Regions from separate parts of the Homo sapiens genome. Here region 1 is linked to region 2. The links come from fine-mapping of genetic effects on gene expression. A gene starts in region 2. The other region holds a variant in brackets. All regions are shown on one strand. Distances are from middle to middle. Region 1 has its middle 110 kb from the start of UCHL1. Region 2 holds the start of LIMCH1 (LIM and calponin homology domains 1).

Evidence for each region.
Region 1: its variant is fine-mapped to the expression of LIMCH1 in iPS cells (PhLiPS, PIP 0.95).

The regions. Positions count from the first base shown.
Region 1 is chr4:41,357,420-41,372,107 of GRCh38, reverse strand. It overlaps a transcript of LIMCH1 not described here. Among named protein-coding and RNA genes, the nearest start is that of UCHL1, 110 kb to the right of the region's middle. RefSeq lists an enhancer at 8,623-9,284. The variant T/C (reference allele first, on the strand shown) is at 8,995.
Region 2 is chr4:41,528,833-41,546,045 of GRCh38, reverse strand. It overlaps LIMCH1 (LIM and calponin homology domains 1), which reads right to left and starts at 7,889. Exons shown (of 32, transcript NM_001330672.2): 1 at 7,696-7,889. LOC105374423 (a long non-coding RNA gene) reads left to right here. Exons shown (of 4, transcript XR_001741667.2): 3 at 677-831; 4 at 2,310-2,592.

The sequences.
Region 1 (14,688 bases), 170 kb after region 2:
ACGTTTCAATCAACACAAAGCCAAATGGAGTCTAGAGCAAAAAGAGGGGTGTTCACCTCCCTGGCTGGTTGTGTTCACCTCTACTATCCTATTTTGTTTTCAACTACTGCTATTTGGTGGTACAAAATACGCAAGTGTTAATAAAAATCTCACATGAACCATCGCAACTTGCACCTTACCAAGCATGCTTCTCTTATTTCCCAATCGCATATGTAATAATCCTCATTACAGAAACCGACATTATAAAATAGCCAACTATATTTGTTCAGAATGCCAGAGCCTGTGCCACATGAGAGGTCTAAGAGTGGAGCTGCTGTTGGGAGGTGCCAGATGAGGCCAAAAGAAGAACTATCATGTGGGCACTATGTGGGGACTCAGGAGCTACGTGGGATCAGGCCTGCCAGTCTTAACATGGGTGAAATTTATTGAAACAGGCACAGTAGAGAACTTCAAACTGGGACGGGGGCAGCAGATACCTGTGTTACACAAAGACTAAACAGAATACCATACGCAAAGAACTAACGGTGCCTGGCAGGGAGGCACCCTAAATCCACATTTTCCTTCCCCTTGTTTATAATCATTCCAGTCTGGATCTCAGCATCAAGGACTATTTGAATCCAGTGGGGGAGTCAGGTTCCAATCAAGGAGAAAAAGACTGGGGAAATAGACGTGAAGTGAAAGGGAGTAAAAATGGTTCCACCCACTGATGATGGTTCATTGGGCTCCTGTAATGATTTTTCATCATGGTCCTAACCACCCTACTGACAATTATCTTTTAAAACATATTGAAAGGGTTCCAGTTTCAGAGAATGTGCTTGGGAGCCATATGGATGAAATTGTTTCCTCGCAACTAACGGTGCTATGTATATAGAAGATGCTCAATAAACAGCATATTGAACCATTAAGGGAATGAAGAGAGAGAAGGAGAGAGGCAGGTCACCTGCTTGGTTAGGTAGTTACTTGGGACCATGATCTTTTTAGAAGTTTCGCTTTTACTTCTAAAGGGTCCCAAATACTAACTCTGCAAAGGTACTTTTTCCAATAAGTAAATATATACGGAGCAGCTGTTAAGGATAAGGCAGCGGGACACAGCAGTCACCAGTCCAAGCTCTGGAACCAGTTTGCCTGGGTTCAAATCCCAGCTCTGCCACTGATTATCTGTGTGGCTTCAAGCATATCACTTACCATTTCCGTGCTTCCATTTTCCCATCTGTAAAACGGCCATAAACAGTGCTTGCTTGAGAAGTATCTTATATATCAGGCACTGTGCTGGGTGTTTGTTCTATACACAATATACCACCTCATGCAAGCACCTACACTACCACTCAAGCAAGCTCCTAGACTACCGCTTGTACATGGTAAGTGTTCCAGAAGTGTGTTTGCTGTTATTTTTATTTGGCACTGAACTAGCCATTTTTATCACTATTATCACACTCTGTCAACTCTAACAGCATAATGAATCAGGCTTCTACTTGTCACTGGCCCCTCCTATTTATGACATCTTGCATGGTCCCTTAGGGAAAAAGGTGGCAACCTCATCTGTTGGCTGATGACAACATTCAGCTCCACAGGCAACTTTTTTTTTAATTTTCCATAGGAAAAGAAGAGGGGATGCTATTTCTCAGTGCTCCCATTGGGTCATGACAATTAACAGTCACAGCCGTGGCCATTTATTGATACCATGGATACCAGCTACTAGTCAGTTATTTTGGGTTTTTTTCCTTTAAAAATACCTGTCTAATAAGAACTCATACAGGTGACCACTATAATAAAAATTCTTCCATTTCTTTTTAGATTCACTATCATTGGAAGTGCTCTATCTTTCCCTCATCCTAAGAAGTGGGAATTAGCTAGACTTCTATAACAGGTGAAAGAGAGGTTTGCTTTGACTTAGGGAAAGAAAGAGAAGGTGAGAGCCCTAAGGCCGAATGCTGGGGGCATGTTTATTTAAAGAAAAGAGATGTCTGCTCTCCCGCCTTGCAGCCAGGAACTCCAACGAGCCCTGACCCAGTCTAACTTGAGGGGAGGGTTAGCACCCTAAAGAATATCTTCACCCAAGGGCCAACAGAGAAATCACCCTCCGAGTGTCCAATCACTGACTGTCTCCAGGCAACTATTGGGTAAACTGCTTTTTTTAATCACTACAAAACACACACACACACACACACTTTGCTTCCTGTCAGGGCAGCAACAGAGTCTATTTTCTCTGCCACAGCCAAGTCCAAGTGCCAATCAGGCAACCGTAGCTGGGCACAGACTCACTGAGAAAGCGCTCAGGCAGTGGGGAAATGTGGCTGTGAGGCCCTAGTGAGGAACAGCCTGGCTGAAACAAGGAGGGAACAGGGTGATGACTAAGACGCAGTCCTTGGCCACAGGGCTCTGGGGTTCACCAAAGGAGGCAAATCCCCCCACCACACACACACACAAAAAAAATTCGTGATAGTAAAATACAGCAACTTTTCTAAAAAAAAGGCAAAAACTGAGGCTCAGGTGTGTACAAAGAAGGGAAGGATTAATGAGCTTAGAGGAATCAGGGACCATGCTGCAGAGGCAGTCGGGTTTAAGCTCTATCTTGAAAGGATTTGTCCCTGGAGAAGTGGAGAAGGGGCATTCCAGGTTGTGGCTACCCCAATAGCCATTCTCCCCTTTTTCCTGAGGAATACAACTCAAGAATATTATCTGAGCATTACTCCTGCCTGGGGTAAAAGATCCTTCTCCAGAGTCTCTCCTATATACAGAAAGGGCCATGTTCCTGAAGTTCTGGGCAATAAAATAGTAGCCAGTATGTCAGAAAGGGTTTCCCAGAAGCCACCTTATATGGGAAGGATGCACTCTTCACTTTCCTTGCCTCCATCCAGCTTCCTGGAAAGGTGATGTGATCACGACTCTCCAGCAGCCATGTTAGACTGGGAAGATGGGGGAGGGGGTCTAAGAATGGTAGTTCAAGTGTTGAAAGGAATCTCAGTCAAGGACCTCCAGGGTTTACAATTTATGAGGATCCCAAAGGGCACCTGGCTTTAGTAGTTTATAAAGCCCCCTCTTTTGGAAGAATTTGGGAAAAGTTCCCAAATGAGAAGACATCTGTGGGTCACCACCCTAAGTCTCACACAAAATGGCTCTCTTCCCTCACTGAAAAGCAAGCAGGTTTCCCGCAGCCCCTTCCTGCTAAGAGTGGAGTACAGCCTCTACAGCCTCTATTTTGTCCAAGAATTTTAATCCAGAGTCTAGGCTCAAACACAAATCCCAAAGTCCTCTCCGCATTTTTCTTAGAAGAGTTCTTATCTGTGCCTCAGATGTAAAATGGACAGTGGATCATCATGCAAACTCTGAGTGGCCTGCAAGGAATATTCAAGAACTTCCGAGGCAGGTACCTTCACCCCCTGCCCTACCACCAACACATATCTACCTTCAATAGACCTAGAGAAATTTAAGAGTGTTTCTACCCTACCTTGTTTCAAAACACAATCATAATAAAAGTATGTGTAGCATCCAACGCAAGCCCTTTTCTCAATAAATCATCATCAATCAAATTCTCCTGCTTAGAATTCTTCCGTGGTCTTAGCTTAAATCTTATTTTCACTAAGAATCCTTGTCTTTTTAAAGAGTGCTTTTCTCTTAATCCCCCCTGCCCCATTCTTTGTCTTCATAGTATGTATTCCAAATCGTAATTATATATGTATTGTTTAATCTCTCTGTCCCCCTGCCACATTGTATATTTCATGAGGGCAGGAAGTATGTTTATTTTGTTCATTACCTAACACCATGCCTAACACTATGCTGCACATTGTTGGAGCTCAGTAAACACTTTTCAGGAAATAATTTTTGAAAGCACACTTTCACACATTAAAATATTAATGCTTATTTTTGCCACTGTTTATACTGAAGCAAACTTACAAATGAGTGATAGCCAAGTCTCCCAAATAATTATTTTCATATTTTAACAATTTGACTGAGCTTATTGTCGCTTTCATTCCATTTCAATTGGAATAAGATATTCAATTAAAATAAAATAATTGTTCAAAATATTTTTTAAACACTTCTGAGGGGAGAAAAAGATAGCTATGTACTCATTGCAATAAATATAACTTCAGTTCCTCACTTGGTGCAGACCCATTTGGTGAACATACTTGGCAAAAAAATAAGGCTGAGGAATTTTTTTTAACAGTTTTCAGTCATGGAAATGAAAAAGCTACAAGTCCTTCTGTTCTTGACCTTGATTTCTTTTTTTTTTTTTTTTTTTTATGATGGAGTCTCGCACTGCCGCCCAGGCTGGAGTGCAGTGGCGCGATTTTGGCTCACTGCAAGTTCCGCCTCCCAGGTTCACACCATTCTCCTGTTTCAGCGTTCCGAGTAGCTGGGACTACAGGTGCCTGCCACCACGCCCGGATGATTTTTCTTTCCTTTTTTTTTTTTTTTTTTTTTTGGATTTTTAGTAGAGACAGGGTTTCACTGTGTTAGCCAGAATGGTCTGGATCTCCAAACCTCATGATCCACCAGCCTTGGCCTCCCATAGTGCTGGGATTACAGGCGTGAGCCACCGCACCTAGCCGACCTTGATTTTAAAAGCAAGTGCAGGTGTATTCCTCCATGGCCTCCTAATGGGCTATCTAGGGGTGAATGGGTGGGGCAGTCCCTAACTTACACTGACCAGGAGGCCAAGCTGCAGCCTCCAACAGCCACACTAGAGTAACTCTCACAGGCAAAATGCAGGACAGTGGAAACATGGAGCTTTCCCAACCTAACCAATATTTTATTCTTAAGGTCTCAGCATAGAGCACAGTTTTGCTGACAGTGGGAAAAGGTATCAGCCAAGTTATTTCTTAGGTGCATTTTATATGACTATATCATCTGTCCTTTTCCTGATGCCAAAGGTAATTCCCTGAGATACACTAGCCATCCTGATATGGTTTGGCTCTGTGTCCCCACCCAAATCTCATCTCAAGTTGTAATCCCCACATGTCAGGACAGGGAGCCTGCAGGGAGATGACTGGATCACGGGGGCGGTTACCCCATGCTGTTCTCATGATGGTGAGTGAGTTCTCATGAGAGCTAATGGTTTTAAAAGCATTTGGCAGTTCCCTCTTCGCTTGCTCTCTCTCTCCTGCCACCATATGAGACCTGTCTTGCTTCCCCTTTGCCTTCCATCATAATTATAAGTTTCTTGAGGCCTCCCCAGCCACGTGGAACTGTAAGTCAGTTAAACCTCCTTTCTTTATAAATTACCCAGTCTCAGGTCGTATCTTTATGGCAGTATGTAAATGAACTAATACACATCCCATCAGGGTTAGATGCATGGGCATCTCTTTGGAAGTGTTGTTTTCAATATTGCAAACATGGAATTTTATCACAGCAGAACTGAATTCCACGGCATCATTCCTCCTTGAAATATAACATCTTATGTCCAGACAGAAGTCTTTCCAATATTCTATCATTTTTTTAAGAACTATTTTTCCCCTATATTATCTTTAGCCCTCTAGTTTAGGCTATTTTTATATTTCTCAATCACTTAAAACCAAAGTTCTATTATCCCTTCCTTTCCTGATTTAATAGCACTGAAGTCATCCTTTTATCTACCCTACCCTTCCTCCAAAAAAGATCATATCTGATACCTTTCTTCTGCCTCAGATGTAAACACACACACATCCTAAGGAACATATGAGGTGTTCTATTATAAAATTGTATTGTACTTTTTAAAAAATCTCAGAACAGTGAACTGGGCTTAAAAGGAAAACCTAATTCCAGTAAGAACAGTTTGGTCAAAAATCAACCAGTGTTAACTGATTCTGTCCTGAATCATGAAAATCAAGGCCAAAATACAAAATACAAAATGTATTTTGCGCCACTTCGAGGGGCCAACTGTACATAGACTTTAGCAGGCACATAATAAGCACCCAATAAATAGTACCTTTTATCATCAGCAACATCAGCATCATTAACATAATTTTTATCATCATGTTATCCCCCAACTATGATGCTTTTAAGCTTCAGAATGGTCTAAAGCAAAAAGAGAAGCTGCCAGGCCAATTTCTAGTACTCCTAGAGCTGCCTAGTCCCACCTAGCACTGACTGCCACTCACAGAATCAAGGCCAACTGTCTACATCATGGCTCTATTGTCATCCATCAGCAGAGAGCTGGAGGCCAAGAGACCCAGTGGCTGAGAACACATGCTCAGCCTTCCCTTTCTTGGTAGCCAGTGCTCAGTCTGCCCTTTGGAGCTCGCCTGATGCAACTGGTTTCCAGGGAGATGCCGGGGCAAGAAGTGCCAGCTCCACCTCCCATTCCGCATCCCCTTTCCCCAAATCTGTGGGACCTCACTGTTTTCCTACCATGTGACAGCATTGTGTCATAGCTGCTCTTGTATACAAACAAGCTAGACTATTTAAATGTCATTGTGAGAAAGATGCCGCCTGCTCTCATTTACATATCTATTCAGACCACTACTCCTTCCTTGATCTAGCCAGAAAAGTTTTTTCTTCCTCTTCCTTGGCAACTTATGCAAAGCTGGAGGACCATCTGCAAAGTTAACTACCTGTTGGGATAAAAAGATGTTAAGAATCTAGTCCCTACAGAGGTGGAGAATTAGAATGACTACATGTATAACTTATGGTATTACATCACAAAAGTCATATGTTACTGGCCATTAAATGCTAAATTATCTCAAAAGCTATTCATAAATTTTCCCTACTGCCAAACAACACAAGCATCTTTTGGTCTTGGAGAGCTATGATACCCTCAGTGTTTTTAATCTTCAGAATTAGGTCCCAGCTGAATAAGAAAACAATTCTATGTGGGCAGCAGGGAATGAACCAAAATGAGAAACTGATCCCTTCCAGCACTAGTTCTCACTCTTGTGAAGTATGGATTAGGTCACAAATAAGATTGTATTCATCACCAAGCCCCATGGGCACACTCTGATTGAAGGTAAAGGAGTCCAGGAACTTCTCAAGTTGAGAAATAAGGCTGAGTTGGGTTGAAATTTCCAGTCCCTCCCTAAAGGCCTGGGAACCTGTTCCAAATCATAACCGAAACCAAGTCGAAGGACATCTGTTTCTTCAGAAAGTGTTTGGCACTGAAAAGAAGAACCACAGATTAGAACAGATAAATATTGTTGTGGGTGGTGAGGCCAAGAGAAGCGGGGAATCAGGAAAATCAGAGTCATCTAACCTACTAATAAACTCTTGTAACTCAATAAATACCACCAAAAAAAAAGAAGGAAATAATAAAAGGGAGGAAGAGGGAAAGAAAATCAATGGAAGAATTCTTCTTATTCCTAGCAGGAGTTGACACAACCTCAGTGAATAAAATTCTGCTGCATTTAGATGAATATTTGGACCCATTATTTGTATAATGATTTAATATTAGATCATCTACAAGAACAAGAGGAGAGGCATTGAGCATTCTGCTTGGAGTTTGGTAACAAAGATTATACATTAAACTTACATATTCAGCATAATATTGAAGAATAATTTTCTAAGCTTTGATGGACTACCAAGATCACTTTATGAGTAGATATTAAAGGTTTTTCTCTGATCCCCAAGTCACTTTTAGTGCAAATTAGAGTGACATGTAGCATCTAGTTAACTTCGACTCCAGGTATCCAGAGTTAACAGAGTGAGATAATAGGATGAAATCAGTAGGCAATTGAATCATATTTTCTACCCGGGAAATCTGGTGTTCTGAATCATTTCTTTCAAAATCAACCTTAGTTGTTATTAACAACAGAAAAAAACAATAGCAATAGCAGTAGTAGTAATAATTATCATAATGATAATAGTAGTAGTAAAAGTAACAGCAGTGGTAATAATAATGGTAATAATACTACTAACCATACTTACACAGCACTTCCTATGTACTGGGCACTGTTCTAAGCATTTTAAATATATTAATTGATTTAATCCTGACAGCACTCCTATGAAATAGGTGAGCTGTTATTAGTATCCTGTTTTACAGATGCTCTCAATAATAACTCTTAGTCATTTTTGTTGTTGCTAACAACTAGAGCTATCTTCCAAAGAAATCATTTGGAACCACAGTAAAGGAAAAGTAGCTTGCTCAGGGTCATCCAGCTACAAAGTAACAGACTCTGGACTCAAACCTAGGATGCCCAGCTCCAAGGTCTGACCTCTCACCTACTGTGTTCTGCTTAGTAAGGCCTTCTAGAAAAGTAGTATGGAAAGAAGTTAGTCACTCCCCTGCCTGCTGGTAGCCACAGTTACTACTTCAAGTTTGCTGTCTCCTCTAGGAGTCTTCCCAAACACAGTTAGATGTGCAACCTGTTCCTACAGCTATAAAAAGTCACTAGGAGTGTTAAAGGGCTGTCCCCACGTGGTCTGTGACCATCTAGTGCTCCGTTAGAGCTTTCACCTTTGCCAACTAAGGAAGGAGTGAGGGGAAGGGGGCTGAAGTGGGGGAATCGTTCCCAGGCCACATTTCCTGCCCAGTAACACGGTCCTCAAATAGCCAAGGCTGCACGCCGAGAAATTCCTCACTAACAAGTTACGTCCTGGATCTGGTTCCCTGAGCCTTTATTAAGAATGAATGTTTTCTTGCCAATCCATGACTCAAGGAAGACCAAGAATCGAGGCGAGACAAGCAGCAAAGTTTGTTTATTAACTTGCTCCACCCAAGGGAACATTTTTATGAAAGGGTGAAATTCCTGACTACTCAAAAAGAAGAAAGAAAGAAAAAAAACCTATGGGAAATTTAATCACCAACTGAATAAAAGTAAAAACAAAGCCCTACCAATGAGGATGCTGCCAGAGACAATGGGGCCCCTAGAGGAGTTGCAATTGTCTCGAGATACCAATCCCCAATCCGCCCCCCCACCCGGGGATTCACTGCCCCTAAGTACTACATTATTGCTGTATTAGCTGAGGAATCTTTGTTCACAAGGCAACTGCATGCAAAACCATCTGTTACAACTTCTGGGTTCCCGTGGTTTGCAGACTCGGCATTTACATTTCAAGAAGAACCTCTGGGAAGGAAGGGGGAGG[T/C]CTCTATCTTTCCCCTGGAGCAATTACCTTTTTATATAGCCTGGGAGGGGGAAGCTCTCCTTTCCCTGAAACTGAACCCAACAATTGAAAGGAGATAGGCCACTTCAATAATGCACACGCAGCTCGCCTGGGCTGCCTGGTCCTAAAGCCACGCATGCCCCATTACGGTTTTCACATTCTTAAATTGGTATGAATGGTAAAGCATCAAGAACAATCCCAAACTGTCTATAGGGCTTAATGAGGTTCTACTGTCTTAAGGAATCCCTTCTTCCTTTTCTTAAACGTGATATTAAAGCTAATATTCTGCACTGCATAATAGCCTGAAATATACTACCACTTAAAAGCAAACTGTAATCTGGGCCAAAGGAGACATTTTGTATCTTGATTTAGGTGGGGGCTATAGTAATATACATATGTCAAAATTCATGGAGGTGTACACTTCAGATTTGTGCACTTTTACATGTGTAACTCATACCACAATACATTTTTAAAGCAGAATATGTCAATGATACAGTTAAGGAAATTGAGAATAAATCACTTGCCTTCAAGAATAGTAAAGACTGTTCTGCTTCTAGATCCTCCCCTTACCCCCACCCACACTCGAAGTCTCTCCTGAGAATTTTAGAGTTCAAGAACCTGAAAAATAGTTATCCAACTCTGCAATAAGCCAGTAACTACAAATGCTTCCTGTGTATCCTGGGAGCATAAGTACGCAACACAGGCAGAGCACCTGTCACACGCCAAACCGTTCCAGCCACATATCAAAAATAAAAAGCCAAGGTCTTTTTCTCATCTGATGGTGAGTTATCAAATTATGAGACATGCCTGGGGCTTTCAGCAAGACAGCCCTGATGTTCATTGTTCTGTTTCTTGAACCCTATTTTCAAACAGATGTTTCTATACTCAAGTAGCACTCTTGCTTGCGGGAAGCAGGTTAACCCTGTAGGGTACAGGTCTCTGGCTGGAGCAGGAGAGCAGCATTAAGTGAGGGTGGTTTCTGCAGGAAGCTCAGCAGGTTTAAATCTGTACGTGGAGCTCTTGTTACTCTAGCAGCTTCTTGGGAACCACAATGCTGAACGGAGTGGGGAGTCACTAAGTGACAGGCGGAATTCTGGAAGCTTCAACATTGCTGGGTCATGATTTAGCGATACACTTCCTCCTCTGAACTACCAGGCAAAGAGGGCTGCTTGTCACTGAGGGAAACAAGGCCAAATTCATACCTTCCACTAAGCCTCCAGAAAGGCCACCCATTGAAGCTGAGGCTCCTTGCACTAATCATAGGGGGTCACCTTTCCCCTTCATGCCCTTCAAGCGTCCTGAACCCCGCAGACAGTTCATTTCGGGAGCTCGGGGCTACCAAGCTGCATCTACTGATAGACATCGTGAATCAGGATCACCCAGTGAGCGCTTCCGGGACTGAGAGCCGAGAGCTCCAGTGATTTCCCTGGCCTGCCAACGAGTTATTTAAGAAGTGAAATATGCCAACCAGACCGGGTAGCCCGTACTTCGGAACCGACCCTGCAGTCCTTGGGATGGAGAGGGGCGGGGGTTGCCAAAGGCTGGGCAGCGTCTATGCGGATGCGTGCTCGCAGGTGGGTCTTGCAAGCTACCCCCGCCCTGCGCACTGTGCCAGCCTCACACCTGACCCGGTGCCAGGAATACAGCAAGAGGCTCCGGTGGGTATGCGCCTCCGTGAAGACACTGCCAACTCTGCTCCGGAAGGGTGCGGGGTAGGGGGACAAGGGGCGAAATGTGGGACCAGAAGCAAGATACCCCGAAATGCGAGCACCGGTGAAGTCTCTGGGGGCTCGCGCTTCCTGCGCCTTTGCAACGCTTTGCTAGCACTGCGCTTCCCTTGGCAGCGCCTGGAAGCGGCGCTAGCTGAGATTTGCGAGGCCAGCGGGCAGGAAGGATGGACGCGCAGGGGATCCCTTCCTGCCCTCACGCGCGCAGCTAGACTGCAGTGTCCCCTTTCACGCCCACCCTCGCCCGGGATTCCAATGCCAAAGCGCTAAGGTTTCGCGGCTCGCCGAGGCCCGGGGGGGTGACCTGGAGCAGCTGGCAAAAGAAAGTGGGGGCGGTTGGGGGGAGGCAAGGCTGGACCTGCGGTCGGAGCGTGCGCGGGTCCGTGGCTCAGGGCGCCAGTGCAAGGCCGCCCGCCAGCCACCCGCACCTACCTCAATCCACTTCTGCGCCTCGGAGAAGGCGGGCTCGGGGGGCGGCTCGGGCTGCAGGGGCTGAAGAGCTTCCAGACCGAGAGCGGGACAAGCCATTTGCGCAGCCCCGCGTCCTCTCAAGCGCCGGGATGAGGACGGCCGCCGCCGTCGCCGCCGCAGGAGCGCGCTCCCCGCCCCTTCCCGCCCGCCGGCCTCCCCTCCCCGCCTCTCCCCGCCCCCGGCCGGCGCAGGTCCCGGGAGAGCCGCGCGCTGCTAGAGGACGCCGCGGCAGCTGTTCCCGGCGCCGCCCGGGCTCCAACGCGCCGTGAGTGACCCGCGGGAGCGAGCGCGGAGGCGCCGGGAGCTTCTTCTCCTCCCCACCTTCGAGGGCCGCTCCGCCCCCGGGGAGGGGGAGCACAGCTACGGACTAAAAATAACCCGGAGCGAGCGCTGCGTGTCTCCCTCCCGTTCACACCCGGCCCGATAGAGGGAATCCGCTGGCCGCCCCGCACGTCCCTGCGCCCCGCCGGCTGCTGAGGGGCGGGCGGATGGGTCTGGCATCATATGGGAGACGCGCGCCCAGTGGGGCGCACCCGGGCCCGGGGGAGCGGGCGCTGCGGCACCGGAGCAGTAGGACGCGCGGGCACTGGCCGCGCAGCACCTGCAGTCCTTCCTGGCCGCAGAGGTAGGGGCAAGGCGGGGCAGCCCCTGGCCCGGCGCCGGGAAGTACACAGCCACCTGATCTTTTTGTAAGAAGAAAAAGAAAAACGACCCTGATGAGCTTTTCTTCTCCAGGAAGGCTACCTGTGTCCTAGTCTGTCGATGCAGTCAACCAACAGTCACTGTGCACCTACTATGCGTCAGGCACTGGGCCAGGCGCTGGGGACGCAGAGATGGAAACACACACACACACACACACACACACACACACCCTACACACCCTACCCACACACACCCTACCTGGAAGTCCTTGCCCTCGAGGTATCTACATTGTAGAGGGAATTGGGGGCCGGGACAGACAATAAACATGTAAATCAAAAGAAGATAATTGTGGCGGGTGTTGTTAAGATAAAAGAGGAGAAGATAATGACATGGAAAGAAAAAGCGCGGGGTAATTTCCGATAGCCTTCCCCCCTTTTGGCTGGGAGGCTGACCTGTGAGTCGCGGTTCCATTAACGGGAGGTAGGCAGATGGTCAGTGAGCTGAAGAGAGACGTGCATTTATTTATCTCGTCCCTTCCTGCAGGTGGTTAGGGGGTTTCCAGAAGGTTCCTCATCTCCTCTTGTCCCACTCAACCTCCCAGGCCTAGGTATGGTAAAGGCTTCCCCATCCCATAATGGTCTCCCGATCCGGCTCACTTCTTTCTAACCCTTCCTTTAAACTCTCCTTGGCCACTCCCACTTGAGCATGCCTTCTGTTTTGCACTACAGCCCAAGTGACGATCAAGGAAGGTGTCTGTAAGGAAATGTCCTGAAGAGGTGACATGAGTGAGGGAGATTTAACTGTGTAACAATTTGGGGGAAGAATTCCAGATGGATGCCAAGGCCTTAAGGTAGGAATGAGCTTCCCCGTGGAGGAGCCCACAGCGGGCCAGCAAGACTGGAGCTGGTGTGGAGAGCACCAGGCGGGAATGATAGCATGGGAGAGGCAGGCCAGGTCCCGCCTGCGGGTGAGGGGGCACACACTACCTTTTAGATTGTTGCCTGGGTATACCCTGGTAGGCCACCAGGGAGCTCTGACCTACGTGAGCCCAGCGCTGGGTCCGGAGGAGCTCAGTATTCTTGGCCTAACCTCAAGCTAATGGATTCCCCTCTTCAGAATGGCTGCTAACAAGAGGTTTCTGACGGTGGCTGGAGGTCCCTGGGTGCCTCAGCCTCTAAATCTCTGTTCCCCATCCAGAATCCGAGTTTAATCTTTGTCCAATTCTGCTGCTATAATAGGGGAATGGAACAAAAAGCAGGCCTCAAATTCCACCATTACCAGCTTTGGAGTCAGACAGGCTTTAGTTTATTTGCTTTGAAAACACTTACGTGGCACTTATACTGTGCCAGGCACTGTTCTAAGTGCATTACAAATAATTGACTAACTCAGTCCTTATTCCAGCTCTGTAAGATAGGACTGTTATCATCCCTACGAGGAAACCAGGGGACAGAGCTGGTGGACAGGGAGGGTTGGATTCAAGCCCAGACAGCCTGGCGCCAGATTTGCTCCTAACTGCACACCAAGCTGTCTTACCAGTCCTGTCCAGACTCCCACTTACAGTGTGTCCCTCAGTTTCCTCACCTAAAATGAGGTGGATATAGTCATCCAGCAGAATCATTGTGAAAGGCACGAACAAGGGGACTGAATGTAAACAGACCAAAGCTGGACCTGACAAACAAGCAGTTGCTGAGTACAGACCACTGATCCTCACCTCCACCCTGCTGTCCAAAACAGAGGGAGGGAAAAGTATACAAAGAAGAGATAAAGAAGGCAAGCATGGGAAAGGGCTAAAGACGTGTGGGCAGAAGATGACCTTGTTTCCATAAAGAAACATGGCAAAGCAAACAGTCCACAAAATGACTCTGGTACACTAATACAATATATGGCTTTGGGCAGTGATATGATCTGGCTCCATGTCCCCACCCAAATCTCATCTTGAATTATAATCTGAATTGTAATCCCTACATGTTGAGGAAGGGACCTGGTGGGAGGTGATTAGATCATGGGAGCAGTTTCCACCGTGCTGTTCTCATGGTAGTGAATGAGTTCTCATAAAATCTGATGGCTTAAAAGTGTCTGGCAGTTCCCTCTTTGTTCTCTTTCTCCTGCCGCCTTGTGAAGAAGGCACTTGCTTCTCCATCTCCTTCTGCCATGATTGTAAGTTCCTGAGGCCTCCCCAGCCATGTGGAACTATGAGTCAATTAAACCTCTTTTCTTTATAAATTACCCAGTCTCAGGTATGTGTTTATAGCAGTGTGAGAATGGGCTAATATAGGCAGGTTCCACTGCATGGAGTAACTAGGAGGAAGGGAAGCGAGCTAGCCCAGATGGTATATCTAAATCCATTTGAAAATGAGTATTAAATTTTATCATATCTCTAATATATCTGGCATTGAAATTGGCATTTAAATAAAACTTTTTTCCTTCAGTGAAAATACATTTTACATCTTTTAAGGTTTATAATCATAAGGTAACATTTGCTTTTTCTGAGCTTTTACCAATCACAAATTCACGCTAGCAAAGACCCACAGACTTAGAACCATAATAGAATTCAAACCTAGTGCTGCTATCAATAATATCCATAAATAGTTGTTAAGAACCTACTATGTGGAAGATACAGAAGAATCCACAAGGGGACACAGACTATGCCCTTTAGGAGCTAATAATTTTGTGTTTTTTTTTATTTATTTAAATTTTTAATTTTTGTGGGTATATACCTGGTATATACATCTATGAAGTATATGGGATATTTTGATAAAGGCATAAAATATGTAATAATCACACCAAAGTAAATGGCATATCCATCACCTCAAGCATTTATCTTTTGTGTTACAAA
Region 2 (17,213 bases):
CTGCTTAGAAATCTGTTGACAGAGCCTGGGAAATCTTGATGAATGAATAAACAGGTAGACCAAGCAGAAACAATTTCTTGTTTTCATAAAGCATTCACCCCAATGTTAATATTTCATATTGGCAAATTTAAGCAACCTAACAGTTGGACCATGTAAACTATGGCCAAAAAAAAATTAAACTGCCAAGTAAGTATGAAACGAAATGGATATTCTTGACTGAACATATTAATATTTTGACTTCCAACTGCTTAAATACATAAGCTCTGTGCTGACTTGACTTTTAAAAAAGTTAAACCTATGACTTTTTAAATGAATACTTTCTGATCAACCATAAGAGATGATCACTCACTCATTTATTGATTAAATAACCATTTAATAAAACATCAGGTAGCTCCAACAACCCTATAACTCAAGTTGCAACAGTGTCCTTTCAGGAATGAGTAAAGGAGCCTGTTTGGGGGGAGGATGTAAAAGTCGTTGTCGAGGTCAACATTAAGTTTAGAGCCAGATAATAGGGTAACTGCTTGATCACCCTTGCTGTGATTTTCTAGCAAAGCTCTTTGTTTTCCATTCCTGATGATCACTGCCCTTCACTTTCCACAGTAACTCTCCCCTCGTACTGACGAACAGGAAAAAAACACTCAAGTCCTTTCTTACATAATGTGTTTTTTTGCAGGAGATCCAGAACTCAAAGATCCTTGATGCTTTTTATCAATTCCACTAAACGTCAAGGACAGGAAATAAAAACATTTTTCTCTTCCGACTCAAACACAATACCCCTTTGTGAAGCTGCTAAAAATCTAGAAATGGCAAATCTGGGAAAATTTTCAGGTGAGCGATAGGCATCAAAATATTTCATTTTTGCTAAAAATATCTCTTAAGTTTTTCTTAGCATTCCAACTCACATCACACTGAATTTGAGTACAAAGAACAGAATCTGTTTTACCCTTGTATTGGCAGTGACTTTGAGGTTATACAAAGGAGTCAAAGTAGCCTGTCCTATGACACTGAAGTCCCTGTAGGCATTTGCCAGTTCAGAGCAGTTCCTTTCAGAATGGAAACAGGAAAGATGGAAAAGGGAAGAGAGATCAATGCAAAATTCTGTATCTTCATTACTTGGCAACTGGAGTTTCAATCAAGGACCCAAGAGGTAACTTAGGCAAGTTGGGGAGTCCCTGAAAGCTAAACCCATGACAGTGAATCTTGTGTAGTCCTCAGCAGCTGCCCCAGCACAGATAAATGAGGCTTTCTAGGAAGCATAAGCATCCTAATGGCAGTAAGGCTGATCCAGTGTCCAGAGGGAAACGTGGTGGCAACAGAAGACACGTGTGGTCTGGGGTAGGCTTTGATGTTGCAGCTCCACAGCAACAGAGACACATGAGAAGAGATCAAAATAGAAGAACCACCCAGCCTTGCTTGGAGAGGAGGTGGAATGGAATGGAATAACTAGGTAACTAGGTAATAGAAAACCAGGTAACTAGGTAATGGAATAATTAGGGAACCACTGGGCACCTGGAGGCTTCTGGGCTCTTCTCTACTCTGCAGGCTTCTCTCTGACACATTAGAGGCCTCCCAGACTCAACTGCTCCCCTCGACAGGAGCAGAAAATAGACGACAGCTACATTTTCTTCAAGTCTTGCCAAGAAAAACCTTGCAGGGTTAAGAACACAAAAGCCTTCAAATATCTTGCTACTGAGGTTCTTTCTTATAAGTTTCAGTGTATACCCACACACAGAGAGTGAAGAAAATTCACTTTGATTCAAAGGGTTCAAGAATGTTCACAGTCTTTCGAGGAGTCACTATGTTTTTAAACTCTTTCAACAGCTCTATTTGTTCTCAAAAGAGTCATAGATTTATTTAATAGCAGTTTATCTTTCAGTTGGCCCATTACAAGCCGGAGCATAACACGTAAAGCATCCAGCATAATCACAGGTTTGGAATTGAGAAGGCTTGGTGGGGGTGGGGGGGTATCTGAAATATAAAGACAATATAAAGGCAAAGAGTTTGTCATGTTATTTGCTGCAGGGAAGCATGTCCATAGGTGAAAAAGTTGAATTTCACATAAAAATATAGAAGTAAACATCTGGAGAAGAAAGACTTTCATGGCAGGTTTGTGAATACGCCCCTAAAAATCCATCGCCCATTTTAAAGAAACAACTAGGGTCTGTGGAGCAACAGGGTGAAACAATCGTTCACTTAAGATACAGTAACATCTTTCTACCAAGTGATAAAAACCTATCACAAAATAAATACACACCACATGTGCTCCATAAAAGTATAACACAGAGGCGCCTTTGTTTTTTTAACAGAAACCTGGCCAAGATGTGAAGACCCAGACTGTGGCGCTATGTTTGGGACTCAGAGGTCTGACACGGGAGCTGAGACTCAGACCAAAGAATTAAGATAGTAACAACATGTTGTCAATTAATCATGCTCATAAGGTGGTCAAAATGACCATGAGGACACATTTCAGTCTACCGGACAGTATGCCAGCTTTCATTCTTGTGCTCAAAGACAAAGAAGAAAGCTTTAATTTGGTGCAATATGGGCCGAAAGTTTAGTTGTCATATATATTAAACTCAGCCTACAGTCTTACTTGAGTAAATTTCATGAAAAATCCAATTTTCTTAAATGTAAGTTATGTTAGGGAAAAAACACTATCTCCACAGGAGCTCAGAGATGTCCCTAACAATACACTCAAACATATTTCATGTATTTTATGTTTTTATGTTTAAACTTATAAATGTAAATTAATATATTTCTATTAAAATTCATAAAATATATATGTACATTTATAATATAAATTAAATACCTTCAGCTGAGTTAGACATTCTGTGCCTTGAAGGACACCAGTTATTTTAGGAACAAATACTCTTTATTGAGGAAGAAAGTGCTGGATCCACCAATGGAATGAACACCCACATCTCTTAGACATAGTTCCATGCGTTACCTTCTTCCCCACAAACCGCATGTTTGTGCAATTAGCTTTCATCAAATCAACATATTAGTCACCAAAAAACATGCTGATGAAAACAAAGACAGGCTAGTTGCTTATTTCTTGAAAGTGAACAGTTCCTTTGGCCATTATATAAGATAATCAGTTTTGCCAGCATCGAAACAGATAATGCTTTAAAAATAATGTGAGGACAATGTTACAATTTTTTCAGTTCTTATTTTCAATTTATTGGCGTTGACTCATATGAGCCCTATATAGCAAGTTGTTCTCTCTTACTGTAGATACCTGCACTTACATACATATAAGACCATCCTCTGACTTCAGGAAATACTGAGGTCAGGTTCCCTGGCAGTAGGGAAGCTGCTATGATGGGATGGATTTCTGGAAACAATTGAAATATCAACGTGGAATAAACTTTATAAATACTTATCTTAAGGGAGTGTTGGCAGAAGCAAGGAAAATGGGTCAACTTCAGGAAATAGCACAGCCTATTTAAAGGCAAAAAAATCAAGAAACAAAAGGGAGTTCAGTTGCTGGTAAATCAGTTTTCTCTTTCTAACAAGTTTATTTATATGCATTTTTCTCTTCTTCCTATAAGGAAGGTATTTTTTCCTTCCTTTAAGTTTTTACTGTTAAATTCACACATTCACATTTTTTTAGTCCTTAATTACCCTGACTGAGTAATTTGAGAGCAGAAACCTCTGGCCATCAGGAAAAAAAAAAAGAAAAGAAAGAAAGAGAGAAAAACACATGTCCAAAAATTCCCTAAGCTTTTCCATATTCCTAAAAGCAAAATGTAACACTAGCAGTGTAAATAAAATCAATACACTGAGAACTCCTAAGGCTGGTTCTCAATGGAACCAGCCATTCCATTCTTGGAATGAAAACCTGAAACGGAAACGAGGAAGATGAAATGAGATTCTACCTAAAAAGACTCCAACAGATTGAGGGCTAGTGTGAAAATCCCAGGATGTGTAATGAGGGGAGGGGAGTAAGCTCTATGGTCAGAGCTCCCATCCAGCCCAGAGTGGCCCAGCAGAAGTCAGGCAAACACAGACGCAGTCCACATCGCTGCTCTACCACAAGCATGGCTGAGTTCGGCTTTTCAGATGTCGGACCTGGGGTGGGCCCTAGGAGGGGCTCAGAAACCAGAGCGACTTTTCAAGTTGTGTCCTTTATGGTATTTGCAGGGAAAGGGCCAACAATAGCCAAGGGGCTGTTTACCAAAGTCATTCTCCAGCACCTCCCACAGAAACGCTTGTGGAAATCACTGCCAAAGCTTACATGGGAATCAAACAGAAGGAACTGAGCACAGCCATGTAAAACATGCCCCAGTCATTTCGTAAGCTCTGTTTCTTCACAGATGGCTGCTGTGGAAGAAATGACTGCTTACAGAAAGCAGAGATCCAAAAATTAATCCAGCCACTGGGATGAAAGCAGGATGAAAAATGATCCTGTTCTATAATTCACATTGGTGATTTACCAGGTCTGGGCTATAAGACATCTAGGGATAAAACTGCTACTCAAAAGCAGATCTGGCAAAGGTGAGGAAACGGTGTGAAGGGCAGGTACTGCTGAAGATCTCTAGAGTCAAAAAAGGATTCACCAAATTAAAATAGAATGTTTCACAGACCAGTAAAGCCAGATGGGAGTTGGTAGCTCATACATATCCTTGTATTTCCAAGAGATGGGAGACTCCAGACTCTGAAAGGGACCAAACACAAGCTCACCTGCTGCGGCAGTACCCAGAGCTGAAAAGAGAGGATGCCAAAGGAATCCAGCCTTCCCGAATCTACACTCTCAAGGCTGGGCTTTGGGACTCTAAGGGTCTAATAAGCTATGGCTCTTATTTTATATCATTACAACAACTGCTTTGGTTCCTTCATTCTTTCACTACTTACCTGTGCTTCTTTACATTTCACAGGTTGATGATACATTACTGCTTTGGATTTCCCTTCAGTTTCATGGTTCAATCCAATGCCCACGTCTACATTTCTTTCACTGCCTTTATACTGCTGTACAGTTAGACTTCATCTGCTACTCCACACACACACAAATCTCTCCCTACTTCCTCACTCCTCATTTCCTGTTGGGAGCTAAGTTTAAAGCTTCATCCTTCTAGATCTACTCAACATTCCTTTTTAAAAGGTAGAGAACAAGGAACGTAGCAGCTGTGTTCGCTGAGCCATTGAATTCACACTGCCCAGCAGCCCTTGAAAGTCAACTGCAGCGTCCATCAGGGCAAGGACTGACAGTTTGTTTCAACACTGAATATGGTTAGTACCTGGCAAGGAGCAGGAGTTCAATAACTCTTGGCAATAATTCGTCATCATTTTCCCCCTGAAATCCATTTTATTATTCTTTTTTTTTCTTTTCAGGCTAGAGTGCAGTGGTGCGATCTCAGCTCACTGTAACCTCCACCTCCCGGGTTCAAGCGATTCTCCTGCCTCAGCCTCCTGAATAGCTGGGATTACAGGTGCCCATCACCACACCCGGCTAACTTTTGTATTTTTAGTAGAGATAGAGTTTCGCCACGTTGGCCAGGCTGGTCTCGAACGCCTGATCTCAGGTGATCCACCTGCCTCAGCCTCCCAAAGTGCTAGGATTACAGGCGTAAGCCACTGCATCTGGCCCGTTTTATTCTTTTATTCTCAAATTATTCTCTCTACAGGACAAGAGAAGGTTTAAAAATCACTGAATCATGATTTTAGGGAAATATTCAACCTAAAAGGCAGGGCCAAAATCTCAAAGGGTCCCAAATTTATCCCAACAGCCAAAGTTCCTCCTCCTCCTCTTTCTCCTTCTTTTCCTACTCCTGTTTTTCTTCTTCTTCATATCTTGAACCACATGACAAGAAAAAAAAATCTAGACTCTTTACCTATATTAATTAATTTACTCTTCATGAAAACCACATAAGGTAGTTACTATATTATGTCCATTTTTACAGACGAGGAAACAAACGATTGTGTTGCCTGCCAAAGATCAGCACACAACTGAGAAGCTGCAAATCCAGGATTTGAACTCAGGCCATCTCACTCTAGAATGTCAGCTCCTAGCTGCCCTGCATACTATGTCCTGAAGGAGAGCTCTTAAGAAGGCCAACTGAAGCCTATGGGGAACAGTATCCTGGTCATTCATTTCCCAAATTGTTATTGAGTGTCTACTATATACCAGGTGCAGGGAATACCCCCAACAGCCATGGTCACTGTTCCTGTCTAGTCAACATTCCTGTTGCTTTCCTAATTGCCATTTGTTATAGCTCCCAGAGAGTAAGCATGCTGAATCCATTAGAAAAGGAAACTCAAGAGTGAGTTCTTCTTCCATATCTTTATCCTTTAAACTTTATTATAGAGAACAATTGCCACTCCTCTCAGCATTAGTTGGGACTCCAGCAAGAACCAGCTAGGACTATGTATCAGCCTGGAATGCATAGTTACAGAACTAAATGGAAATGGGAAAATGAATACAACGGTGTTAGGAAGTCCCTCTCTGCCCGATGATTAGATTGAGGAGATGTATTGGCAGCTGTAAGGAGGGTGGCTTATTCTTGCCCCTTCTTCCCTTGGGAAGGTCTTCAAAATTGGAGGAGTTATGGCTGCCCAGTCACCTTCTAGTCACCTTACAGAGAGAGCAGGAGAGCAGAGTGGCACATACCCTCAGGCAGGATTCCTGAGTCAAAGGCTGGCTGCTGACACTTGCAGCCTCTCGGTTTTATTTGACCTTCACCTTGTGCGGAACCCACCCGCGCAGCACAGGACAAACCCCTTCTCCCGGGACTGCTGAATCAGCCACTCTGGGAGTGGCAGGAGAGAAGTTTCAGACTCCTGAGACATTTGGTCTATTCAGCACCATGAAGAAAACGGCTGTAGCTCAGTGAGAGAATCACAATCAGGAGCTGGCTGAATAAAGGTGATAAAAATAGATTTCCCGACTCCACAAAGATGAATCATTTTGCCATAGGGATTCGCCAGGCTCTGTTTCAACCTGATTTTCAACCCAGCCTCATAAATTTGGCTAAGGAAAATTTTCTTCCCCTAGATAACCAGTGCCATGGAACGTTTAGCATTCAGACGGGTCTGACGGGATTTTATGAGACAATTGTCCAGAAATAACCCCCATTCCTTTCCCGGCCTGCAGTAAATAGTGACTATGAAGGACAAGGACTAAGTGGGCAAGGCTGGAGATGCAGCCCTTCCCTCCAGACTCCTCCCTGCCTCCCCAATGTCTTCCTTGCTTCTTTTCCTCCTCATTTTAAGAAATGGAAGTTTTTAAAAAGCAAAGGGGGCTGTGGAGTCAGGAGCAGAATGTGACAGGGGCTCAGGTGAAGCAGCCCCACCATGAATGCAGCCACATCTCCCCCACAACACCATGTGCTGCTGGACCACATCTTAAAAATGCAGCCAAGTTGCTTCTCATTCTCAAAATTCTCAAAAATCCTTTTTATTTTGACTAAACTAATGGAGTTATGTGTCTTGTACCACATACCGGAAAATAAAAAACAATGCTTTCCTTAGGGAATTAAAAAAAAAAAAAAGCTTAATTAAAAGCAACAGGTGCTAACAGTTATCAAAGGACAAGATGAATCCACAGGAAAGTAATTTTCATATTATTTTCGCCATACTAATAAGTGAATAAAAAGTCACTTTTTTTTAAACCAAGTATTAAAGTCTAAATAGCTTCCTTCTTTCCATCATGGATACCCCTAAGCATGTATTTCTTTTATAATGAATTTTACTTACCCCCACACGTCCTCATGCTCCGCAATGAACTCCAGCCAACCCACTCTGGGAGATGGGAGGGGCATCTCTCCTGTGTGCTCCTCGTCAGCCCCAGCACAGCAGCCGAAATGCCCTTACATTTCCTTTCCCAAAACAGTCGTCACCACTGCCAACCCCTGCTCTGTCCACAAGCAGGCTGCTGCGGCTGAAATGCTGATGCAGTGAAAGGGAACTGGAAGACAGCTGATTGCCACACCTATTGGAGAGGGAGGCGGAGAAGCCCATTCCCTCTGAGGAAAAGGAATGGCATCTTCAGAAGTAGAGATGCCAGGATTGGAATTGTGCAGAGAGCTTTGTGTCAGCCACTAGCACACAGTAGGTTTGCAGTACTGTCAGGAAATCTGGATCTAGAAAAAGCACCCAAGTGGGACCCGAGGAACAAAGACTCACTCCAGTCCCAACTCTGGAACAAAGTTGCTGCCTGACTCCAGGCAAGTCACTGCCTTCTGGTCTCAGTTTCCTTATTTGTAAAATAACAATGTTTCAAAAAGTAAATCTCTAAGTGGCTTCTAGTTCTGGGATTCTAAGACCATCCTAATGTTCATGAGCATAATAAAAAGTAAACTACCATTTATTGAAAACATCCTGTGTACCATCCATCATATTAGGTATTTTATGTATATCATCTCATTTAATCCCACAATGCTGAGATGGGATTTATCAACCCCATCTTATAGATGAGGAAACTGGCAAACTCACTCCATGAATCCCCATGAAAAAAAAGGATCATCATATTCCTTCAGTGTTTTGAATTTAAATGGAGGCATTCAATCTTTGTGCCTGAAATTGAGATGACATCTGAGAATGGAATTTCTGCACTGCTGGGAGATTAATGTGTTTACAGTCCTCTGCTGGTATAATTCTGAGGTACTAGTATTTATGGTTATGGCTGTTCATGCTACTGCAAAATCCATTTTCCACCTGTTGCTTTTTATTAAACCTCCCTAAAGGACATGAACTATTTCTTTCTGCAGATTCTAAAAGCAGGATGCTGAAATATGTGAGCAGAAGCATCGTGTGCGGAGTTACCATTTGGAATTTTCAAATGCTATAAAACACAATGTTTACAACCAATTCATCATTTATAAAAGTTTATTGGATTAATATGCCAATGGACTCACTGGTATCCTGCCATTTATTGACACAAATACATCAAGTGGTAGGCTGACATTTAATATTTATTAATAACTTCTGTATTTCCTTACCTATTTCATAGTTTCCTTGCATTATGCTCTTTTATCTTTATTGTCATTCATCCTACTTTAAGTGAACTTTTTATTTTAGAATAGTTTTTAGATTTATAGAAAGCTACAAAGATAATATGCAGAGTTTCAGTATAACTCATGTCTTACATCTTACATTCCTATGGTACATCTACATTTATCACAGTTAAGAAATAAACACTGGTACACTACTATTAACTAAATCCATGTTTTATTTGGATTTCATTAGTTTTTCCCTAATATGCTCTTTCTGTTTTAAGATCCCATCTATAATGCCATATAATATTTAATCATTATGTCTCCTTAACTTTTTCTGGACTTTCCTTGTTTCTCAGATATGCCTTGCTTTTGATGGCCTTGACAGTTTTGAAGAATACTGGTCGGGTATTTTGTAGAATATCCTTCCATTTAGGTTTGTCTGATATTCTTTCCATGGCTGGGGATATAGGTTTTTGTGAGGAAAAAGTACCATTCTTTTAACACTGAGGGAAAAGAGGAAAAGTACCATTCCTATATAACATTATATCAATCATCCTATTTTTAATGTTATGTTTAAGTTAAATCAAAAACTTAAACTGAATATAGTTAAATTTTAGAAAGGAAAAATTAGATATCAAACTACTCAGAAATCTAGTATTTTATACTGTGGACAGAGCGACAGAGAGGAATTAATTTTTGTACCATTTGAGATGAAGGTAGACCTAACATTCTAGCAGAAAGCCAGCTAATTACAAGAGAGGCGTCTAGCGAGTTCTTTTGAAATGCTTGCCAAGACAAACTTCCTACAAAAACAATCCAGAGGAAGGCACGTTTTAAGAGAAGTGCTGTTTCAGCCTAGCATGGTCTCATACTTCATACATTTGGTGGTATTTTTTTCCTGTTGTCAAACAACCAAATCCCTATAAACCTGGGTTTGGAATACATGCTAAGAATTAGTTCCACAGAAAGTTATCCTCTAGGTAAGCTATAACTATGGAAAAAAAGGAGTCAGACGTCAGCTGAAATATGTATTTCCTGCTATTATATATTTTTTGCTCACAGTTTGTAATTGAAGGTCTATTCCTAAGGGAAAAAAGTGAGGAACTGATGTAATGTCACAAATTCTGCTAAACGCTGTTCAACGAAAGATAAGGGAGAACAAGTGGTTTCTTTCTTCAAAGAATGGCATTTTTTGTTTTTTCGGGAACAGGAAAGGGAAAAAAAAATGAAGTTGGGGAAAAAAAAGCTTTACAGCACTGCTATATATAACCTTCCACCTCTGCAGAGACACAGAATAATTATGGAAACAAATTTGGAAAAATAGTTTGTGGTGGTGCAGAAAGAGGATATTAGACTTCAGCTAGCAAGTCTAGGCATTCAAAACACACGTGAATAAGAATTTAAGGGCTTAGCTGGCTAACCCACTGTTACGAGCTAAATTGTCTCCTCCTCCCTCCCCCAATTCGTATCTTGAACTCCTAACCCGTTCTAACTCAGAATGTGACTGTAGTGACTGTAAGAAGGTAATTAAGTTATATGAGGTCATCTGAGGGGGCCCTAATCCAATACGACAGTGTCCTTATAAAAAGGCAAAATATGGACACAGATACATACAGGGGAAAGACCACGTGAAGATGCAGGGAAAGGCAGCCATCTGGGAGCCAAGGAGACAGGCCTTAGAACAAACCCACTCTGATCACACCTTGATCTCAGACTTCTAACCTACAGAATTGACAAAATAAATTTCTATTATTTAAGCCATCCAATCTGTGGTACTTTGTTATGGCCATCAGAGCAAATTAATATACTCATCTAGTACTAAGAATGAAATATCAGGGGTATAAGAGAGGCTGCAGGGCACAAGATTGGATGGATATGATATCTCAATGAATTGTCAATTATATGAAGATCTTTCTTTTCTTTTCTTTTTTTTTTTTTTTTTTTTTTGTGACAGGGTCCGACTCCCATCACCCAGGCTGGAGTCCAGTGGCACATTCAAAGCTCACTGCAGGCTTGACTTCCCAGGCCCAGGTGATTCTCCTACCTCAGCCTCCTAAGTAGCTGGGACTACAGGCATGCACAACCATGCCTGGCTAATTTTTTGTATTTTTAGTAAAGACAAGATTTTGCCATGTTGCCTAGGCTGGTCTTGAACTCCTGGGCTCAAGCGATCACCTGCCTTAGGCTCCCAAAGTTCTGGGATTATAGGCATGAGCCACTGCACCGGTCTTTCTGTCATGATTTTCAATTCTAAGTGCAATTGCTAATGACTTTTCCTGTAGTCTCAAACTCCTTTTTTCACTCCTTTCTCCATATCCCAGTCCCTGCCAATGTGGATCAAACACTCCAAAGACAATACTATAATTTGGAGGGGGAGGGGAACTTCATAGTGGTTATAGAAAAAAAAAATATGTCTTCATTTATACTGAAGCATAGGATTTAACTTCAAAATAGTCCATCCATTAACCTAGTCCAATTTTTTGTAACTTTTTCCTTGAGTTCCAAACCAGCATTTCTAATAGTCTGCCAGACATCTGCACATGAATATCTTTTAGAGATAGCCAACTCAATATGTCCAAAAGAGAATGCATCTTTTCTTTTGGAGCTCATTTCTCATTCCCATGTTCCCATGATTCCTATTAATGGCATCAGTACCCTCCACACTGCTCAAGTCCAAAATGCAAATGTCATCTTCCTAAAATTATCTGTTGTATTTCATCAGTTCTAAGATGTACACCTTTTTTAACCTCTGAAATAAAGATGCATTTTTTTCATTGCCAGTGTCTTAGCATTGTGTCATCATTGAATTGGCAGCTTTTTTAAATGAGCTATAATTTTTAAAAATGGTGTGTGTCATCATTGATGGCATATTACATTTAGTGAAAAGTAAATCCTGTCTCCTCATCTCTAATCCCACTGCTTCTACTAAGGTTTAAGTGTCCATCCTCTCTCATTTGGACTACTTATCTCCTACTTGACTTTTATTGCTGGTATCTTGCCATAATCAGCTTTCTATACGGCCACCTCAGTTATCTGGAACACGAGATTCCCTTGTTTTCAGTGGCTTTTACTGCACACAAAATGAGTCCAAACACCCCCAGATGGCATTTCTGGTCTCAGCTTACTATTCCTGGTCTAGTTTCCAAGCATGGATTTTCTCAGGGACTCTGCGTCCAGCTGCAGCCACTGGACCCAGTGCAAATAATGCAAATGATAGCCACTTCCAGATAAGACCCAGGTCCTTCTGACTCAGAGCCTTTCTCATTCCATGCCCTGAAGCTAGTTGTTCTTCCTCTAACTCCATGATCTTCACTATTTGTAGACGCCCTGTTCAAATCCCACCCCTTCCAAAGTTCTTAATCACAAATCAAAATTTCTTCCTTGGTCTTTCTTGCATATTATACTTCATTAACATTTCACAGTCTACCTTACATTTGACCTTTCTTCTATATTTGTCTTCTAGAAAGTAGTCTCCTAAAAGGCAGGAATTATGTCTTGAAGTGGATTTTTACTTGGAAGGCAAGAGAGAGAACACATCATCTCTATTTGGTATATATGTGCAGAAGAAAATTAGAAAAAAGTCCTTGGATGTCATGCAAGAAAGGTTAACCAAGGAAAACTGTGTTATCTTTAAAGTCCTATAAGCACAAGGAGCCGGTGTTCAGGAGAATGAGAGATCTATGCCCTGGCTGCTCAATAGACGGATACAACCATTTCATTCATCGGGACAAGCAGCTTCTGAAGAGCTCCCAGAGATCCCTTCCTCCTGGCATTCAGACCCTTGTGGGACCTCCTCCCCTTGAATGTGGGCTGGGCCTAGCAACTTGCTTTTAATTAATAGAATAAGGCAGAACTGACAAAACATCACTTCAGAGATTAGGTTATAAAGGACTGTGACTTCCATCTCACTTGTTGTCTCCCTCCCTTTCTCTTTCTTTCTTTCTCAGGCCCTTCCTGCTTGCTCACTCTGATGATGCAAGCTGCAACCCTGTAAGCTGTTCTATAGAAAGACCCACATGGCAAGTACACAAGGATGGCTTTGGCCAACAGCCTGTGAGGAACTGAATCCTGCCAATATCCACGAGTAAGCTTAGAAACGGAAGTTCTAAGCTCCCTACTCTGGCCTGGAAATGATACTGACCAACACCTTGAATGCAGCCTTGTGAGGGACCCTGAACCAGAGACCCAGCTAAGCCTTGCTCATATTCCTGACCCATGAGAACAATGAGATGATAAATGTTGTTGTTTTAAGCCACTAAGTTCTGGGGTAATTTGTTATAGAGCAATTAATAACTAAAACTCTCACCAAATAAAAGAAAACCAGAAAGGACATAATAATCACAAGATGAGTGAAGGGACAAAAAATTCTTATTAAGTCTTCCCAAATACCCACAAAAGATGCGCAAGGGGACTAACTTATTGGTCTGATCCAAGCACATCAGTGAACAACCAAAAGCCAGCCTGCTCCAGTGGGCATCAGAACTCCCCTTCACCCGGTCCAACCTACAGTGGAGAATGGCTCTTGCCATCTGACACACTTTTATCACTGTATTCACGATGTGGTCAAGCCTTTTGGTGTAGGTCATGAACCATCTGTTGCCCTGGTTTCCGAGTGTGATGTACAAAGTGAGAGATAAATGTTACTTTTGAATGTTACTCGAATGTTACTTTCACTCAGGAAGAGCCTTAAATACGTTTCTGAAGTGTTTGGATTTTATTCCACATTCAGTAGGGAGCCATATAAAATTATGAGAAGATGAGGGACACGAGATGACCTGTACATTTTTTACAAGCTAACTGTAAAGGCTGTTTCAAACAGCAGCACACAAGCCATATCAACCTGGGAGGCAGTAAATAAACTTAGAATCCCCAAGTTCATATTCCACCTTTCAATTGAATGCAGGTGGAATGCACCAAAGACCTCGTGTGTTTTGTTGTTTTTCCCTGCGGTGTGTAGTCTTTCATGGCTAGACCTACTAAAATGCTAACCATCACTCCTATGTTGGCTTGGCTTTGGCATCAAACTTGAGAGCAGCAAATTGAGCATTCCCTCTGTGTGTGGTGTGGGAACGCAACCGAGGTTTCTCATACTGTGCCAGGGATGAGGATAAAGGAAAGTGTGTCATTAAATTCCATTTTGGCTGAGAAACCTCACAATGTCTATTCATTTCCCTCAGTGAATATGCCTTCTTCACACAGAACATCGCTTGGCTACCAGTTTTTACTTGTTCCCCTAAAGAAGGGGAGGACGACCCCTGGAGACTCCGGATCGTACCATGCAACTACTACAGAGAACACAGAGTAGCAGGAAAAACACATGAGGGTTTTTATTCCAAGCCCTTCCTTCTCCCCTACCCATGAAGGAGAATTCTGTCTTCCTGTCTCTGAGTCTTTGTTGTCCAGAATCAGAATCAGGGGCAAAAGGAGCCGAGTCTAGCTGGATTGATTTGCACTGGAAAGAGCTAACCATTAGTCATAGCAGACAAAAGGGTAAGAAGCAAGGAAGGCAAGAACTAGCACAGTGTGAGGCTCAAAGATTTGAGGTCACTGGGCATAGAGAGGTTTGGGAGAGTTGGCAAGTATAAGGTGTGTATGTGTGTGTGTGTGTGTGTGTGTGTGTGTGTGTGTGTGTGTGACAGAGAAAGACTGTAGAAGAGAAAGAGAGGAGGGCATTTTAGGTAATTCTGCTGCATATTATGAATAAAATCACTCTGACTTTTTTTTTAAGACTCCAGTAAAGAATTCTAATGCTTTCCTATGATCACTTGTTAGGTATGGCCACATGAAGCCTGATTTGATAGTGGCCATGGTAGAAACATTACATGTAGCAGTGCCTTTTTCAAAAAGGCCACTTCCTCAATTTGGTTGAATTAATAAATTTTAAATGAGAGAGTCTGATTTCTAACAACTTAGGTCTCCTTAGAGGTTGATGTCTCCAAACAAATGTTCGGAAAGTGTTGAGATTCAATTCTATATCCTAGGGTCTAATGGAGAGAGTATAACACAGTAGAAAAGGCACAGATGTAGAGTTGGGCAAACCCAGGTTCAAGTACCAACTCTGCCTCTTATTAGTTGGAAAGCTGGTGACATTTCTTTGAACTTTAGAGTAAAGATACAGCAATAACAACATCACAGGTGTGTTGTAAAGATTAGGAAGGATGATCTAGCACTGCACCTGGGGCAGGGTAGGAATGTGATACGTGATGGTTATCACTGTGGTAACTTTCACCTCTAACCTCCCTCTTCCCTGCCTTGCCTGCTTCCTGGCCAAAAAAAAAAAAAAAAAAAAATTTTTTTTTTTTTTTTTTTTTTTTTAGGCGGGGTTTCGCTCTTGTAGCCCCGGCTGGAGTGCAATGGCACAATCTCGGCTCACTGCCTGGGTTCAAGCAATTCTCCTGCCTTAGCCTCCCAAGTAGCTGGGATTACGGGCACACACCACCATGCCAGGCTAATTTTTGTACTTTTAGTAGAGACAGGGTTTCACCATGTTGGCCAGGCTAATCTCGAACTCCTGACCTCAGGTGATCTGCATGCCTTGGCCTCCCAAAGTGCTGGGATTACAGGCATGAGCCACCATGCCTGGCCAAAAAACAACAATTTTAACTGGAGGAGAGACCGAGCCCGGAGAACAGAACTTTAACCAGTTTTTTCTAAGGTAATCTATAAGATAAACCACTGGAGGGAAGGTAAAGTTCTAGAAGAGAAGACATTGATCAGGATGAGTTGAGGCACACCAGAGCTAATTCTTAGGAAGGATGTGCAGGAAACCTTTTCTTGACAGCTAGACACCCAAAGCAGTGAGGACCCCAATTTATTGCATTGTTATCCTCCTAAAAAGATGAAGTCTGCATAAAGGCTTTTCACTCATACTACTCAGGTTAACAGCCTTGTATGTCTAGTTTTGTCCAAAACAATATTTTTAATCTTCTCATAATGTGGAAATCACTACAGCTCTTTCATCACTTCCCCTACTCTGATCTCACTCGATGAAATGGCAACTGTTCTGATGTCAGTTTTCATAAACTAAAGCAGATAACTTTTGAAAGCTTCCTAAAGTCTAAAGAACTTATGGAAACTTACATTTTTTTCCATGGCAGGAAGCTCTAACCATATTTGAAATCTTATCTTTGATTAGAGAAAAGTACATCCTTTTCCCCAAAATGCGTTTCTGAGTGGGTTAGGGTTACTGAATGGTAGGATCATCTGACCAGTCACATTCCTGCTTCTGCTTCTGACCTTCAGCTAGCGTCAAATTTCCATCGTTCATCAGGCTAAGAAGTGATACATGAAGTAAGGCCTTTCACAGAGCTCAGAAAGATATTTTGTAGGTATTGGCCGACAGAAAGAAAAAAAAGAGATGAACTTAAAAAATGAGTTTTTGCCTTCCTCTCTTTTTCAAAAAAGGTAAAATAAAATGTCATTAAAATGTGTCCCATCTTCAACTGGGAACAGTGTATATGTAATAACCAAGGAGAGGGGTGGCCAGGGCTCGGGATCCATCTCATCTTTTACTGTTTGTCTAATGTGGGGCAAATAATTTCCCTTTATGGACCCACATGTCCTCATCTGCAAAACAAACACATCTAAGATGTCCTTCTAAGATACATCTAAGACGTAAAATTGTCTTTTCCTCAGATCACTTTTATCCTTACAGACCCATGGAAAAATCAAACAGTATTTCATGACAACTCTAAGAAGGTTCAGCACTCAGGGGCAGAATCCGCAAATATCACCTATTTCCAATTATACTTCACATGTGCATATGTGCACACACGACGGCTGTCACAATTCAAATCTGTGCAAGAAAAGGCTTAATCCCCAAACTCCTATCATAAGCAAAGATTTCATACATTCATGGCTTTTGCACAAAACCTAAAGCTCCTGGGATGAAACAACATTTAGCATGATCTCTGATGACCACTAAATTGAGTTTCAAGATGTGGCTCGATAGTACAATACTGATGAGCTAGCAGACTGAAGTGCAGCATTTTAAAAAAAAACCTTTGGTATGCCAAGACCTAAATTTGAGGACTTTCTCTCTGGCAGCAGCAAACAGTATCACTAACACCTAAAAGAGAATGCAAGCATCTGCAGGCAGTCACCACACGGCTTCATATGTCAGCAATCGTTGCAGAAGAAATGCAGACCCGGATTCAGGGTCTTTGCATTCTTGCCAGGAAATGATTTTCAACTACTTTGTTTTAACACCTTCACCCCTGAATTCTTTGTAACCACAGCTTAACTCAGGGGCTAAAATACACCTATTCATGCCTTTGT